Regions from separate parts of the Homo sapiens genome. Here region 1 is linked to region 2. The links come from fine-mapping of genetic effects on gene expression. Tissue or cell type: nucleus accumbens. Region 2 holds a variant in brackets; the other region holds the start of a gene. All regions are shown on one strand. Distances are between the middles of the regions.

Evidence for each region. PIP is the estimated chance that this variant, and not a neighbour inherited with it, causes the effect.
Region 1: LINC02987 starts here. The variant in region 2 is fine-mapped to the expression of LINC02987 in nucleus accumbens (GTEx, PIP above 0.99).

The regions. Positions count from the first base shown.
Region 1 is chr19:27,789,828-27,797,931 of GRCh38, forward strand. It overlaps LINC02987 (long intergenic non-protein coding RNA 2987), which reads left to right and starts at 3,604. Exons shown (of 7, transcript NR_146733.1): 1 at 3,604-3,782. It overlaps LINC00662 (long intergenic non-protein coding RNA 662), which reads right to left and starts at 4,113. Exons shown (of 3, transcript NR_027301.1): 1 at 3,705-4,113; 2 at 3,173-3,405; 3 at 666-2,074. RefSeq lists enhancers at 3,846-4,325, 5,492-6,273.
Region 2 is chr19:28,529,103-28,537,206 of GRCh38, forward strand. It overlaps the pseudogene LOC100420587. Among named protein-coding and RNA genes, the nearest start is that of ERVE-5, 74 kb to the right of the region's middle. The variant G/A (reference allele first, on the strand shown) is at 4,274.

The sequences.
Region 1 (8,104 bases), 740 kb before region 2:
ATGTGGAGAAATAGGAACACTTTTACACTGTTGGTGGGACTGTAAACTAGTTCAACCATTGTGGAAGTCAGTGTGGTGATTCCTCCGGGATCTAGAACTAGAAATACCATTTGACCCAGCCATCCCATTACTGGGTGTATACCCTAAGGACTATAAATAATGCTGCTATAAAGACACATGCACACGTATGTTTATTGCGGCACTATTCACAATAGCAAAGACTTGGAAGCAACCCAAATGTCCAACGATAGACTGGATTAAGAAAATGTGGCACATATACACCATGGAATACTATGCAGCCATAAAAAATGATGAGTTCATGTCCTTTGTAGGGACATGGATGAAATTGGAAATCATCATTCTCAGTAAACTATCGCAAGAACAAAAAACCAAACACTGCATATTCTCACTCATAGGTGGGAATTGAACAATGAGAACACATGGACACAGGAAGGGGAACATCACACTCTGGGGACTGTTGTGGGGTGGGGGGAGCGGGGAGGGATAGCTTTAGGAGATATACCTAATGCTAAATGACAATTTAATGGGTGCAGCACACCAGCATGGCACATGTATACATATGTAACTAACCTGCACATTGTGCACATGTACCCTATAACTTAAAGTATAATAATAATAAAATTTAAAAAAAAAGAAAGATGATCTCACCACGACCAAGTGCAATTTATTCTTAGAATGCAAGGATATCTTAAAACATGAATTTTTTAACATATAAAAATTGATCAATGTGTACACATTAACAAAATAAAAGAAACATTGATCACCTCATGGATGCAGAGAAAAGTATTTTATGAAATTCAAAATCTTTTCAGGGTGAAAACACTCAAAAAAGTAGGAATTTTAAAACTAAAATACTACCATTGTGAAATCCACACATTAAAAAACCACATCAAACAATGTACTCCAGGGTGAAAGACAAAAAGCTTCTGCTCTAAGCTCAGGAACAAGGCAAAGGTGTCTGCTTTTGCTATTTCTATTCCACATAGTGTTGGAAGTTCTAGTCAAATTAAGAATTAAAAAGAAACAAACTATCCAAATTGGAAATGTAGAGGTAAAATTACTCTAGCCTACAGATAATATAATTTTATGTGGAAAGCTCTAGAGATTTCACAGATCCACACAAAAAGTATTACAACTAATAAATTCAGCATAGTAGCAGCATACAAAATTAACATGCAAATATCACTTGTGTTTCTATACAGTAATGATGAATAATTAGAAAACAAAACTAAGCAAACAAGCACATTTACAATAGCACTGAAAAGAATAAAATACGTCGGGAGTAACAAAAAAAGCAAAAAATTCTATTTTGCAGAAATAGAAAAATCCTACCTAAATTTCATATGGAATCTCAAGGGACCCCAATGAGTCAAAATTATCTTGAAAAAGAAGTCCAGTGTTACAAAATGTACACTTATTCATTCCAAAGCTTAATACAAAGTTCCAAAATAGTGTGGTACTGGCAAAGAGACACACATATGGACACTGGAACAGTATAAAGCAGCATATGGTCAAATAATTTTTGATGGGGATACAAAGACCGTTCAATGGGCAAAGGACTGTCTTTATAACAATTGGTGCTGGGAAAAAATGGATATCCACAAGCAAAAGGATGAAGTTGAACATTTACCCTACACCATAAACAAATAAAAATGCATCAAAGACCTAAAGGTAAGAACTTAAAGTATAAAATTTTTGAATAAAATATAAGTAGAAAACATCATGACAATATCACAAATATAATGACACATTTAAAAAAGTAGATGTGGCCAGGCATGGTGGCTCACGCCTGTAATCCCAGCACTTTGGGAGGAGGAGGCAGCCGGATAACGAGGTCAAGAGATTGAGACCATCCTGGTCAACATGGTGAAACCCCGTCTCTACTAAAAATACAAAAATCAGCTGGGCGTGGTGGCGCATGCCTGTAGTCCCAGATACTTGGGAGGCTGAGGCATAAGAATCGCTTGAACCCAGGAGGTGGAGGTTGCAGTGAGCCGAGACAGGCCACGGCACTGTACAGCCTGGTGACAGAGCGAGACTCTGTCTCAAATAACTAAAAAAGAAAAAAAGAAAAAGTAGGTGTAAAACTATCCATAGTAGATACTCTCATTTACATAAAATCCAGTAAGAAAACAAAACTGAAGTTCTGGCTTCCGGTAATACTGGAGTAGCTTGCTAAACTAACACTCTCACAGATAACAATGATACAATCTGGATAAAATATTATATATAGTTACATAGAAACATTCATCTATATACAATACATACATACGTGTGTGTGACTGAATGAGAATTTCAACCTTTCCCACCGTAGGGAAGATAATTATTCTGTTTGAATTCAGCCACATTTACCCCCTCTTCAAATAATAACAATGCTCTTCCAAAGAATACAACAGAATTTAGTCTCTATAACTAATATTTATAATTTCTATTACACAATATTAAAATTCATAAAATGTGTGAAGAAATGTAACATGCAAACTATACACAAGATAAAAAGCAGGCAGCAGAAGCTATTTCTAAGATGTCCGAGATGATGTAATCAGCAGACAAGTATTTCAGGGCAGCTATTATAAGTACGTTCATGGGGGTAAAGGAAAATATTCTCATAATGAATTAACTCATGTAGAGTCTCAGCAGAGACATGGAAATTATAAAAAGAGTAAAATAGAAGACAATAAAATAATAAAATAAAAAGAACTTTTAGTTTACAGAGTAGAAACAGAAGACAGCAATATAAACCATCCAATCTGAAGACTGAAACAAGTTTAAAGAAAATGAAAAGAGGCCTAAGAGACCTGTGAAATGATTGAGTCTGAGACAGAGAGGGAGAGACAGAAAAATTAAATATAATACAAAAACAAATAAACAATAGCTGAAAATTTAAAAACTTGGTCAAAACCGCAAATTCTTATATTCAAAAGGTGAACACACTCCAAAACAAAAACAAAAACAAATAAAACCATATCGAGGCCCTACTGTGATTTAGAAAACTGGCAGAGCAAGATTTTCCAGGGAGTTGCTATGATTTCTCATTTTCACTATTTATAATAATGGAAAATATGCACTCCTTAGTTTTCTTCTTGGAGAAAGTCTGACTTGTCAAACACAGATGACTTTTCAGTTTAGTTTTCAAGGTTTAATTTCTTACCTTGGAAATCAATTAAATTTGTTTCTTTAAAATGTCGCAGTAAAATTGCTCCTCCAGACAGATGTCCACGGAGATTCTGTCCTGCTGCGTCCGCCTTTCACAGAACTGAGGTTGTTCCTACACCAGTTTCAGAAGCGTGTAGGCACGCTTTATTACAGTGGCAGCAGCGTCCCTGTGCGAGGTCTAACCCAGGTGTGGGCCCTGCAGCCAGCCCGGGGGTCCAATGGGTCCTCCTATGGAGCACAGGAAGAATCGTGGCAGGCCAGAGATAGACAAAAGGTGGCTTTTAAAAGGGAAGTGTCAGGTTACCAGGGACTGGGTACTTTTACACGCGGACCTTCGGCCCTGCCCATAGAAAGGGGCAGCACTGCGCATCTCTGAAGGAGTGTGGCAAAGGGTGGGGCAATAAGAAGGGTGGGGCAGAAAGGAGTGGCCCCTCAGGAGGAAGGGGCGGGGAGATCCCAGCTACTAGAGGACGCCCGTTCCAATGGCAACTCTGCCAAGGCGCCTATGAGAGCCTCTTGGCTTTTACCTGGTCTGCGAGAAATCAAACTTTGGGCACAAGTCATGAAGCCGACAAGCCCGGGAGACACAGTGTCAGAATTACAAGGTGAGATCAGCCGCCCGGCCAAGCTATCTTCTCGCTAGCAGGTGAGGCCCGTGAACAGCCAAGCTCCCCTTGGCACGGCGGAACCGCAGTGGACGCGTGGAGGGGCTCCGTAGAGGAGGGACCTTTGCTTGGGATGCGGGGAGCTGTAGTCTCTTATCTGCACCCAGCTTGTTAGTTGTACGCCTGCAGGACTACAATCTCAGCACAAAGCAGGATTGTAGGGCGGTGCGGATCCCTGGAGGGAGACAGCGCGGTGCGCTCCTGCCGGCCATGCTGGCTGGGGTGGTGTCTTAGGCGGTTCCAGCCGTTAGTCACAGGGCGGCCGGACTACAATCCCAGCATACAACGGGAGTGGAGGTGGTGACCTTGAGAGAGGGCCTGTGCTGTGCGCGCCTCGCGGGGCATGCTGGGAGCAGTAGCATCTTAGCTGCTTCCGGCCGCTGGTCGCAGGGCTGCGGGACTACAATCTTCGCATGAAATGGAAGAGAGGGTGGTGCGGATAGCTTGAGGAAGGTACGGATACCTTGAGGGAGGTATGGATACGTTGAGGGAGGTACGGATACGTTGAGGGAGGTTACGGATACGTTAAGGGAGGTACAGCAGCGGTGCGCGCCTTGCAGGGCATGCTGAGAGGAACAGTTTTTTAACTGCTTCTGGCTGTTGGTGGCAGAGCTGCGGGACTACAATCCCAGTATGCTACGGGAGTGGGGATGATGCTGGTCCCTTGAGGGGGGGGGGCAGCGCGGTGCCCTCCTGCCGGGCATGCTGGTAATAGTGTCTTAGCTGCTTCCGGCCGTTGGTCGCAGGGCTATGGGACTACAGTCTCAGCATGCGCAGGGTTCAAGGGTGTTGCGCAGCCCCGCAGGGAGGGGCAGGGCGGTGTTGACCTCTGTTTCCAAACCCATGCTGGCTACTGAATCTGTGCCACCCCTGGCTAAGGGGAGTGAGTCCATAGAGGGACTTGAAGGGCAGGTCTGGGCTGGGCAGTGAGGAGAGTATGATACTGCAAAGTGCGCCTCGCCTTTGCCAAAATCGGTCGGGTCTCAGGCTCACCCCACCTCCCGCTGCTCAGTTCCGTTTCCCTCCAGAGCATCAAGCCTCCTCCCGCCCAGGGGGCCTCCTGCTTTCCTAAGCTGCTGTGGAATCGGCCTGAGGTCCCAGACGCTGTCCATTGTGCTGCTGCTCTCTGCTTTCTCCAGCCAGAGTGCCAGTTCATCCGCTTTTGGGAGAACTCCGCCGCCTGGCCTGCCCGCGGAAAAGGTCACAGCTTTGCAGGGGGTGACATGGGCTATGGCTTCCTGGAAATGTCACCCTCACTAGCGCCTTTTAGATAGATGTGAATTTTGAGACATGAGGGAGAGTAATTATTGGTTTACCCAGGAGATGCTAAGAGCAGAGGAGAAAACCCTAATTTCCAGGCATGTGTCCTGAGCCAGGGACAGGCTGGCCAGACCCTAAGCCCCCAGTGCCGCCAGAGAGCAGCCTACTGCCCTGATTTGTGTGGAATCCCCTTCGTGCTGCTGGGCCTTAGCGTCAGGGACAGCCCAGTCAGGTGAAGGTGGGGATGACCCATGGGCTTCTGGAAGTGGGTTGGTGGTCCTGGGAGGGCCAGCCCATCCCCCCTTGGAGAGGGTCTTTGTGCTGAAGGATGCCCACAGAGGCCTGGGTACCAGGAACACTGCTCTAGGCAAGGTGCCTTTCTTCCAGATTTGGCTGAAAGGAAGGAAGACTTGGTCAGCTTTTCCACCCAGCCATCTGGCCCTTACAGGGCTGCTCCCCATGGACCTGGGTTTGTAGAGTCCTCCAGGGCTTTGTGTGGCCCACTAGTTCTGATACTGAGGACACCCCTGCAGGCTGTTAATTTCAGAACAAGGGGTGTGTGCAGACTGGGGCATGGGTGCTGTCAGGGTACCCCAGGCTGCTCCAGGGACGGTACCCCAGTGTTCAACTTGGCTTGGGGCCCCCTGCCTCATGCCCTTACTCCAGGGCTGCTTGGCCTGGGCTTGAGCCATGGTCCAGAACTCAGGTGGCCCCATTGCCACCTAATATAAGGGCCTGTCTCCACAGTGGGTGAGACGCCCCTGGGCACTGGGCTCTTCAGTCATCCAGGGCTATCCACTCCATGGCATGAGTTCCCACATTCAGCTGAACTCTGTCTGGCTCTGGACTGGGGTCCCTCCTGTGCCCTTTCCCTGAATCCTCTCTGGGTCCGAGACACTGATCCTCTTCACTCTCTGGCTTAAGGCTTGTTCTCCTGACCTCCTTGGAGGGGTGCTCAGGATTGAGGACCCCTGCTGTTCTCTGGGGCTGTTGGTACTCGGAGGTGTGGGTGTTGGCTTGCACTGAGAAGTCCAACCCCTTCAGTGCCCTTCAGGGGTCCTTTAAGAGCAGGAGTGATAGGGTGTGGGGGAGTGCCTTAGAGGGGTCTTGCCCTCATCCCCTGCCCTGTCTCTGAGACGTGTCCAGTAAACCTGAGGTCAGCACCTCAGGAATGAAATAATGTCTTTTGCAGCAACTTGAATGAAGCTGGAGGCCATTATTCCAAGTGAAATAACTCAGGAATTAAAAATCAAATGCCATATGTTCTCACTTATAAGTTGGAGCTAAGCCATGCGTATGCAAAGGCATGCGGGGTGACATAATGGACTTTGGAGACTCAGACATGAGGGTGGCAGGTGGATGAAGGATGAAAAAACTACCTGTTGAGTACAATATATACTACTCAGGTGACAAGTGCACTAAAATCTCAGAATCCAACACTATATAATTCATTCATGTAACCAAAAACCACTTGTACCCAAATGATATTGACATTAAAAAAAATTTAAAACTAACAAAATTTATAATAAAAGCTTTTTAAAAAATAAAAAATAAAAACAGTGTCAAAGTGTTAATTTATTGTGCATTGCATAGCAAGCCCCTTTTGCTCAGTACCACACTCACTACTGGAGAAACAAAACCTTGAAAATTAAAGAAGAACCTGCACATAAATGATAATTCTGATAAGTTATTTATACACTGCCTACATGAATATTACAGATATGTGTTAAAGACAAAGATCTATGTTAGATTGGGTCAGCTTTATGCTTGGTCATTATATTTCCAATTCTTCTCTCTCAAAATACAACAGTCATGGGTTGCCATGGTGATTATTCCAAATGCATTGTGATCATATGGAACTGGTGACGTGTTCTCATTTCCCTTTCAGTTATAAAATAAGCCTGATGTTCCTAGCCATCAAAATCTCACTAACACCTAACTACTTCAGTTTCAACTGTGGTTCCTATTTCAAGACAATCACTCAAGGTTGCAAATCACAGAAAGACAAGAATGTTTTCATTAACCAAAACATTAATCAAAAATTATACCCCTTGAGGCCATGTAATTTGGTTTTTATTTAGTTTATTGTCTATTCAGGTCCATAAAGCCTACAACTGCAACAATATATACAGTTCATGATGACTTAATATTTATTGAATAGTAAAATTAATACATGTTAAGAGTAGATCTGGCTTCAGGTAATCAGGGCTGAAGTGATATGTGCAGTGGTCAAGGACAAATGTCAATGTATAATCTGACCTCCTGCACTCGAAACACACATCAATACTTTAAATGCCTCAGAAGAAAGTCACGTAGGAGAATAAATGAAAGAAAATAGAAAAGTTGTTAATTAGATTAAGAAGGAATTAAACCTGGTTTTAAAATAGAGAGATAAAGACATACAATATAAAAATACTGAAGAACAAGTAGCATAGGCAGAGGAGCACTAAAGGTATAACAGGAAAGAAATATATCTAAAAATATTAGTTTCTGAGTTAAGATTGTAGATGTAGAGACCTGACAAAAAGAGTTGTTCCTACACATTAACCAACCAAACAAACAAAAAAGCTGGAGAAACTACAAACGCATGGTCGATTTCTCCTGAGCCCTTTAGAGAACTGAGGTCATGGGGAAGACAACAAACTCAACATCAGGGCATGCAGGAGCCTGGCCCCAGGCTTTCAAGTGCACCCTGGTGAACTGGTATAATTAAGCCAGAACATTTGAACTAGTTCCTGGTGGCTGTGTGTCAGTGGGTGAGGAGAATGAGAAACCCTGGAGTCTACAGACATAGAGTTTACATTTTTCTGTATATTTTTTCTAGGAACACTACAAGGCCTGTTAGAGAAGAAAGGGTAGAATCCCGAGAATGTTTTCCCCACAGTGCTGATAAGGAGAGACCACTATCCCATCTACTGCTACAGCTCTGGAGACAGAGCTCTCCCACCTGTCATATAGAACACAAGGACCAATCTGCAGAGAAAGAGCATCCAAACCTGATC
Region 2 (8,104 bases):
ATAAACCTGCTTTCACTCTGCACTGCGGACTTGCCCTAAATTCTTTCTTGTGCGAGATCCAAGAACCCTCTCTTGGGGTCTGGATTGGGAGTCCTTTCCTGTATATCTCTGTTCTGTAACACCTTGAGGCTCATTTTGTGTGTTTCCTTTCTCTCAACAATCACAGTTCTGCACTGTGTAATGTTCAGTGTCTGAAAACACCTGCTTCATGTTTGTCTAATTTAATAGTAGTTTTCTGTGGGAATGAAAGTCTAGTACTAGTTACACTGTCATGGCCAAAACTGAGGGCCTTTTGGGTGTCTTCTAATACCCTTGATTCTTATTGGCAGCTGCCTACTCTGAGTAAATGCCCAACAAAATACGAAACAGCTCAGCTTCATGTCTTCCAACCAACCTCAGAAAAAAGATAAAGTCTGATTTAAATTTCATATCAAAAGCAATATTTCAACTATTTAAAGCTACAATAAATATACAACCATACGGAAATCTGTAACCAAATATAAAACCCTCTAAACTAAAACATTTAACACAGCAGAGACCACCAATGTAACACTGGGTTAATTCATTTTTGTGTAAAACCTGTAATAAAGTGTACCACCACATTTATGTTTAATTTAAGAGCCTCTTTACTCCAGAAGTATAAGGGGCCCAAATCAGAAAACCTATTGATATAATTTACCACATTAACAAACCAGGAAATTATATGGTTATTTCAATAGGAAAAGAAACAGTATTCAATAAAATTCAATCTATACACATAATAAAACATATATTACAATAAGAAAAGTAAAAATGAAAAGCTTAATGAAAGATATTTAATTTAAAAGCCACAGAAAACATCATATGTAACAGTGAAATTTAAAAATCATTCTCATTAAAGTCATGCTCAACACTAAGGTGTCAAGTGTCTCTGCTTGTATTCAACATGTCATTCACCATTTTTTTTTTCCCTGTGGTATCTCTTGACCTGGTCTCAAGGCAGCCAGAACTCCAGAAACACAATAAGCATTGATAAAAAGATCTCGAAGAGAAGCCCTCTAGTTCAGGCTCAAGAAGAGGAAAAGGGGTCTCCTGTTAATACAAGTTGTGGCAGCCAGAACCCACAGCGCTGGGAACTCAAAGAAAGAAGAGCCTTCCTCTTCAGTGAAAAGAGCTACTGTCCAAAGGGGGTGAGGCAAGTTCCTGTTGATTTTTCCTCTCTGCCCCCTACTCTCTCCAGATACACACTGGTTGGCCTTGGATATAGACATAGTTCCAGAAAGAAAGTGCAAAAGCAAAGTAAATAAAACTTCAGGTTTTTGGCTAGAGGACTAAAAAAGGAGAATCCCAGTACCAAGACTGCAGAAAAGGAGGAGCTTGGGAAACAATACCATTAAGGTGTTTATGAACTCCTGAAATCAACCTCAAGTTTAGCATTCAGGTTCTGATTCAAAGCAGCCTACAAAGACATTGAGAACTAAACTAAGAGACCATGACCCATGTCCCAGATTGACCACCAGAGGGTACACATGTAGGACAAATTTAAATAGGACTGCAAAGGCTGTTAAAAGTAAACTAATATAGAGACTTTATCCCAGAGAAGGCCACTCAGAATTTACAATCTAAGCCCAATCAGGTCAATTGGCTGCTAAAACAAAAATGTCAATATTCTCCACAGGGTATATACAAGACCCAGTCCTGTAGTACACAATATTGAAAATGTCCAGAATATAATACCAAATTACATGGCACATGAAGAACCAATGAAATTACAAATTGCATGAGAAAAGACAACCAACGGATGACAACAGTCAGATATTGGAACTCATCCAACAGTAAACCTTTCCAACTGATGCTAAATTTGTCTGACAAAGGCTTTGATAATTATCCCACTAGTAAGGGTAAACGTATTTATTTTTATTTTTAATTTTTTGAGACAGAGTCTGGCTCTGTTGCCTAGGCTGGAGTGGAGTGCATGATCTCTGCTCACAGCAACCTCTGTCTTCTGGGCTCAAGCCATCCTCTCACTTCAGCCTCATGAGTAGCTGGGACTGTAGACAGATACCACCATGCCCAGCTAACTTTGGTTCTATGTATGTATGTATGTATGTATGTATGTATGTATGTATGTATGTATGTATCTATCTATCTATCTATCTATCTAGTAGAAATGGGGTTTCACCACATTGCCTGGGTTGGTCTTAAACTCCTGGCTCAGGCAATCCACTTGCCTAGGCCTCCCAAAGTGCACGGAATAAAGGCATGAGCCACAGCACCTGGCCTAAGCATCTTTAAAATAAATCAGGTAATAGAAAGTCTCAGCCCAAAATAGAGCCAAACATACATAAATGTATATACAATACACAAAAGAACCAAATATAAAATCCAGAACTAAAACATACAATGAATAAAATGTTAAAACTCATTAGGTGTACTCAATAGCATAATTGAGATGACAGAGTGAAAAGTTCACTGGAACTTGAGGATAGATCAATAGAAATATTCAACCTTAAAAACTAAGAAAAGATTGATTAAAAATTAATCTGGGCTGGGTGCGATGGCTCATGCCTATAATCCAGCACTTTGGCAGGCTGAGGCAGGAGGATCACCTGAGTTCAGGAGTTCGAGACCAGCCTGGCCAACATGGTGAAACACTGTCTCTACTAAAAATACAAAAATTAGCTGGGTGTGGTGGTGGGCACCTGTAATCCCAGCTACTCAGGAGGCTGAGGAATGAGAATCGCTTGAACCTGGAAGGCAGAGGTTGCAGTGAGCTGAGATTGTGCCACTGCATTCCAGCCTGGACAACAGAGCAAGACTCTGTCTCAAAACAAAACAAAACAAATTAATCTGTGGGATAAAATAGAAATGCCTAGCATTTGTTTCATCTGAGTCGTAGAAAGAAATAATAAAGACTGCAGTGGAGACATAATATTTAAAGAAATAATGTATAGAAACTCTTCAAGTTTGGGGGAAAAAATAAACCTACAGATTCAAGAAGCTCAGAAAATTGCAAACAGCGAAAACACAAATAAATCAATGCAAAGACATATTACAATCAAACTTTGAAAATAAAGACAAAGAAAAAATCTTAAAAGCAGCCAGACAAAAAAAGATGCATTGCTTAAAAAAGGAAAACAGTACACAAGACAGTGGATTTCTCATCAAAAATTTCTGATACCAAAATAATAATAATAAAAAAATTTCAACCAAGAATTCTAGGTCCAAGAAAAATACTCTTCAGAAATGTACATCAAAACCACAATAAGATACCACTTCACATCTACTAGGATGGCTATAATAAAAAAGAGACAATAACAAATGTTTGCGAGCAGGTGAAGAAATTGAAACCCTTACACATTGCTCATAGGAATATAAAATGATGCAGCTGCTTTGGAAAACAGTTTGGCAGCTCCTAAAAAAATTAAATATAGAGTTCCATATGCCCCAACAATTCTACTTCTAGGTATAGACCCAAGATAATTGAAAACACATATTTACACAAAAACTTATACATGAATATTCATAGCAGCACTATTCATAATAGCCAAAAGATACAAACACTCCAACTATCAATCAATTGATGAGTAGATAAATATAATATGTTATATCCATACAATGAAATGCTATTCTGCTGTAAAAAATACTTAAGTTCTGATACATGCTAATATGGATAAAACTCAAAGAAATTGTGCAAAGTGAAAGAAGCCAGAAAGAAACCGCCACATATTCTATGATTTCAGTTGTAGGCAATGTCCAGAATAGACAGATTCATAGAGACAGAAAGATTATTGATGGCTAGGGGCTAGGTAGAAAAGAAGAATGAACTGCTAATGTATACAGGGATTTTACGGGTGGTGGTGGTGATATAAAGGTTCTAGCTTTAGGTAATGGTGATAGTTGCACAACTTTGAGAATATGCAAAAAAAAAAAAATAAAAAACAAATTGTGTACTTTAAAAAGGTACATTTTATGGTATGTGAAGTATGTTTCCAAAAAAAAGGAGAATAAAGAAGTTCTCATTTAAAGTAAAACCAAGAGAATTCATTGTCAGTGGACCTGCTCTAAGAGAATTGCTAAAGTAGTCACTAGACACAAAGGAAATGGTACCAGAAAGAAACTTCAGAGCAGAAATTTTAAAAAAGCAAAAGAAATTTAAAATATACGAAAAAATTGAGTAAACTATTCTTCTGTTGAATTCTTTAAAATATGTTATGTTTCAAAGTAAAACAATATTTTTAAATGAAATTTCAAAGTATGTAGATGCAATACGTAATAAACATATAGGCCGGGC[G/A]CGGTGGCTCACGCCTGTAATCCCAGCACTTTGGGAGGCCGAGGTGGGCGGATCATGAGGTCAGGAGATCGAGACCATCCTGGCTAACACGGTGAAACCCCATCTCTACTGAAAATACAAAAAATTAGCCGGGCGTGGTGGTGGGCACCTGTAGTCCCAGCTACTCGGGAGGCTGAGGCAGGAGAATGGCGTGAACCCGGGAGGTGGAGCTTGCAGCGAGCCGAGATGGCACCGCTGCACTCCAGCCTGGGTGACAGAGTGAGACTCCGTTTCAAAAAAAAAAAAAAAAATCATATAAGAAATTACAACATAAAGGGGGAAGAAGGAACCTATAGAGAGGTAAGATTTCAAAACACATGATACAGTAAAATACTGATTCTGTGTAGATAGTGAACATTTAAATGAAAATATTGTAATTACTAGGGCTACCACTTTTTTTAATTTAAAAAAAGTACGTACACAATGAGATGTATTCAAAAACACAAGATATAGAATTGAATTAAAAATTATTAAATAAGCCGGGCACAGTGGCTCGCACCTGTAATCCCAGCACTTTGGAAGGCAGAGGCGGGCTGAGGTCAAGAACTCAAGACCAGCCTGGCCAACATGGTGAAACCCCGTCTCTACTAAAAATACAAAAATTAGCTGGGCGTGTTGGCGCCCACCTGTAGTGCCAGCTACTCAGGAAGCTGAGGCAGGAGAATCGCTTGAGCCAGGGAGACGGAGGTTGCAGTGAGCCAAGATTGCACCACTGCACTCCAGCCTGGCCGACAGAGCAAGACTCTGTCTAAAAAAAAAAAAAAAAATTATTAAATAACCCAAAAGAAGGCAGGAATGGGAACACACAGGGATGATAAACAGAGGAACAAGGAGATACAAAGAATAAAATGATAGAACTACATTCAAACACATCAACAATTACATTACAGGTAAATGATCTAAATGCACCAAATAAAGAGATTGTCAGAACAAGTTTTTAAAAATACATAATCCAATTATATACTCTCTATAAAAATTCTGCTTCAAGCATAAAGATATCAGTACATTAAAATTAGGAGAAAAGATACAAAATGCAAACACTAACCAAAAGAAAGCTCAAGTGGTTATATTAATATCAGACAAAGTAGACTTCAGAGCAAACAAATTTAGCAGGATATCATACAATAATAAAAGAGTTCATTTATAAGAATTACATAAAAACCCTAAATGTATATGGAAGCTAAAAACAAACCTTCAAAATATAAAAACTGAAAATTAATTTTTGGACAAATTGGACTACATCAAAATTAAAAACTTTAACTCTGAAACAACACTGCTAAGAGAGTAAAAAGAAAGGCTACAGATTGGGAGAAAATATGCGCAAATCACATATCCAACATAAGACTTGCATTCAGAATCTAAAAGGAAATTTTTTAATTCAACAATAAGTAAGCAAACAACCAAATTAAAAAATGGGCAAAAGAGGTGAACAGACACTTTACCAAACAGTATTTAAGGAGAGCAAATGAGCACATGAAAAGATATTTAACATCGTTAGTCATTATGAAAATGCAAATTAAAACCTTGTTGAAATGCAATTACACACATAAATAAAAATAACGACAATGTCAAGTGAGAGTGACCATGCAGAACAGTTGGAACTGCAAACATTGCTGTGGGAATGCAAAATGGTTCAGCCACTCTGGGAAACAGCAAGTTTCTTATAAAGTGAAACACACACTTACCATATGACAGAACGTCAATTCTACTCCTGAGTACTTAGAGAAATATAAATTTATGTTCATTCTAAAACTGGTACAGGAATGTTGATAGAGGCTCTGTTTATAATTGCCCACTGGAAACAACCCAGATGTTCTTCAAGGGATGAATGGTTACATAAATGAGCCAAAGATGGCCTCTGTGTTTTGGCCCCTATGTTTATTGTAGGTTGAGACCAGTTAGCTCAAAATCCTGCCCAAACCAAACTCAAATTTGTACATACCGAGTTATTTATAAAATTGCCTGAACAAGCAAATTTTTAGCTATTTAGAGCTTTCCTGCTTTGCATACTCCAAGAAACCTCACCCAACAGCTGTTACCTACTGATAAATAGGGCCTTGCAGTTATAAAACCCAAAATTCCTGCTGCCTTTGGTTTGCCTGACCCAAGACTTCCTGCTGTGCTGCTGTGAGACACCCTTGAGATACATACATAAGCCCCATATTCAACCCTCCCTCCAGAGTTCTCTTGCCTTATTCCCTTTCTCATTGGTGGTCTCATTAGACTGTCTCATGCAACCCTGTCTTACTGCCACTCAATAAAGTTGTGTGTTACTGCCTCTCATTGTCATATGTTTTTCCTAGCTCAGTCCCCAAATCCCTAAAACCCTTAGGTGAATACATAAGCAAACTTTAGTACATCCACACAATGAAACACTACTTAGCACTAAAAAGCAACAAACTATTGATACACGTAGCAATCTGAATGCTCAGTAAATGAGGCCAGAATCAAAGTTGATACTACAGATTTCATTTATATAACAGTTTCCAAAAGACTACAGTGATAGAAAACAGATAACTGATTGTCAGGGATTCGGAATGGAGGTGAGTGTGACTTACAATGGAACAGAATCAGGAAAGTTTTGGGGATGATAGAACTATTCTGAATTCTGACTATGGTGGTGTTTACACATGTGTTAATATGCATGTATCTGTATACCAATATACCAAAAGGGCCAATCATGCATATTAACAACATACATATGTTAATATAACAGTTAATATAACAGTATATATATAACAGTATTACTATAACAGTTAATATAACAGTAACAACATACGTGTGTTAATATGCATGCATCTGTATACCAATACCAAAAGGGCCAATTCTACTGTATGCTAATTTTGTTTTGTTTTTTTTTTGAGATAGAGTCTCTCTCTGTCGCCCAGGCTGGGAATTTATAAAATTGACTGATTAAACCAGAAAGAATAACATTGTATTATATCATTTATTATGTGGATAGATAACAAAATATATACAATGATAGCATAAAGGACTGTAAGAGGAGAGTAGTTTTACTGTTAGAAGTTTCTTGCATTGTATAAGTAGTGGCACAGTATGTACTCTAAGTAGACTATGGTAAGTATATGTGTATATAAATACTTAGAAAAATCTCTAAAATATACAATGAAGTTAAGCTAAATATCAGTGGATAAATTAAAATGAAACACTAAAAATATCTGATTAATCCATGTGACGGCAAGAAAGGAAGAACAAAGGAAAAAAATAGTTGGGATGACTAAAAAAACAAATAGCAATATGATAGATATACTTAAACCCAGCCATACCAATAATTACATTAAATGTAAATGTACTAAACATTCCTATTAAGATGCAGTAATAGTCACACTAGATATTAAAAGCAATATCCAACCATATGCTACCTATAAGAGGCATACTTTATATATAAAACTGCAGATTGTTTGAGAGTACTAAGATGCAAATAAATATTCCACACAAAGAGCAAGCCTAAGAAAAACAACTATTTGTTTGAATAACATTATTAGCCAATTTTACTGGGTTAACAATAAACATTGCATCCATACACTATAAATATGTAACTTGTTTATGTGCACATGAAACATATATTTTAGATACAATATGCTGGGACACAAAATAAGTCTCAATGTTTTTAAAGGATTGAGATCTTACATAGTAGGTTCTCTGACCACAACAGAATTAAATTAGAAATCAATAAAAATAACATGCCTGGAATTATGCAAAATATTTAGAAATTAAACAACTACTACCTAATGCATAGGTCAAAAAAAAAATCTCAAAGGAAATTGTCAA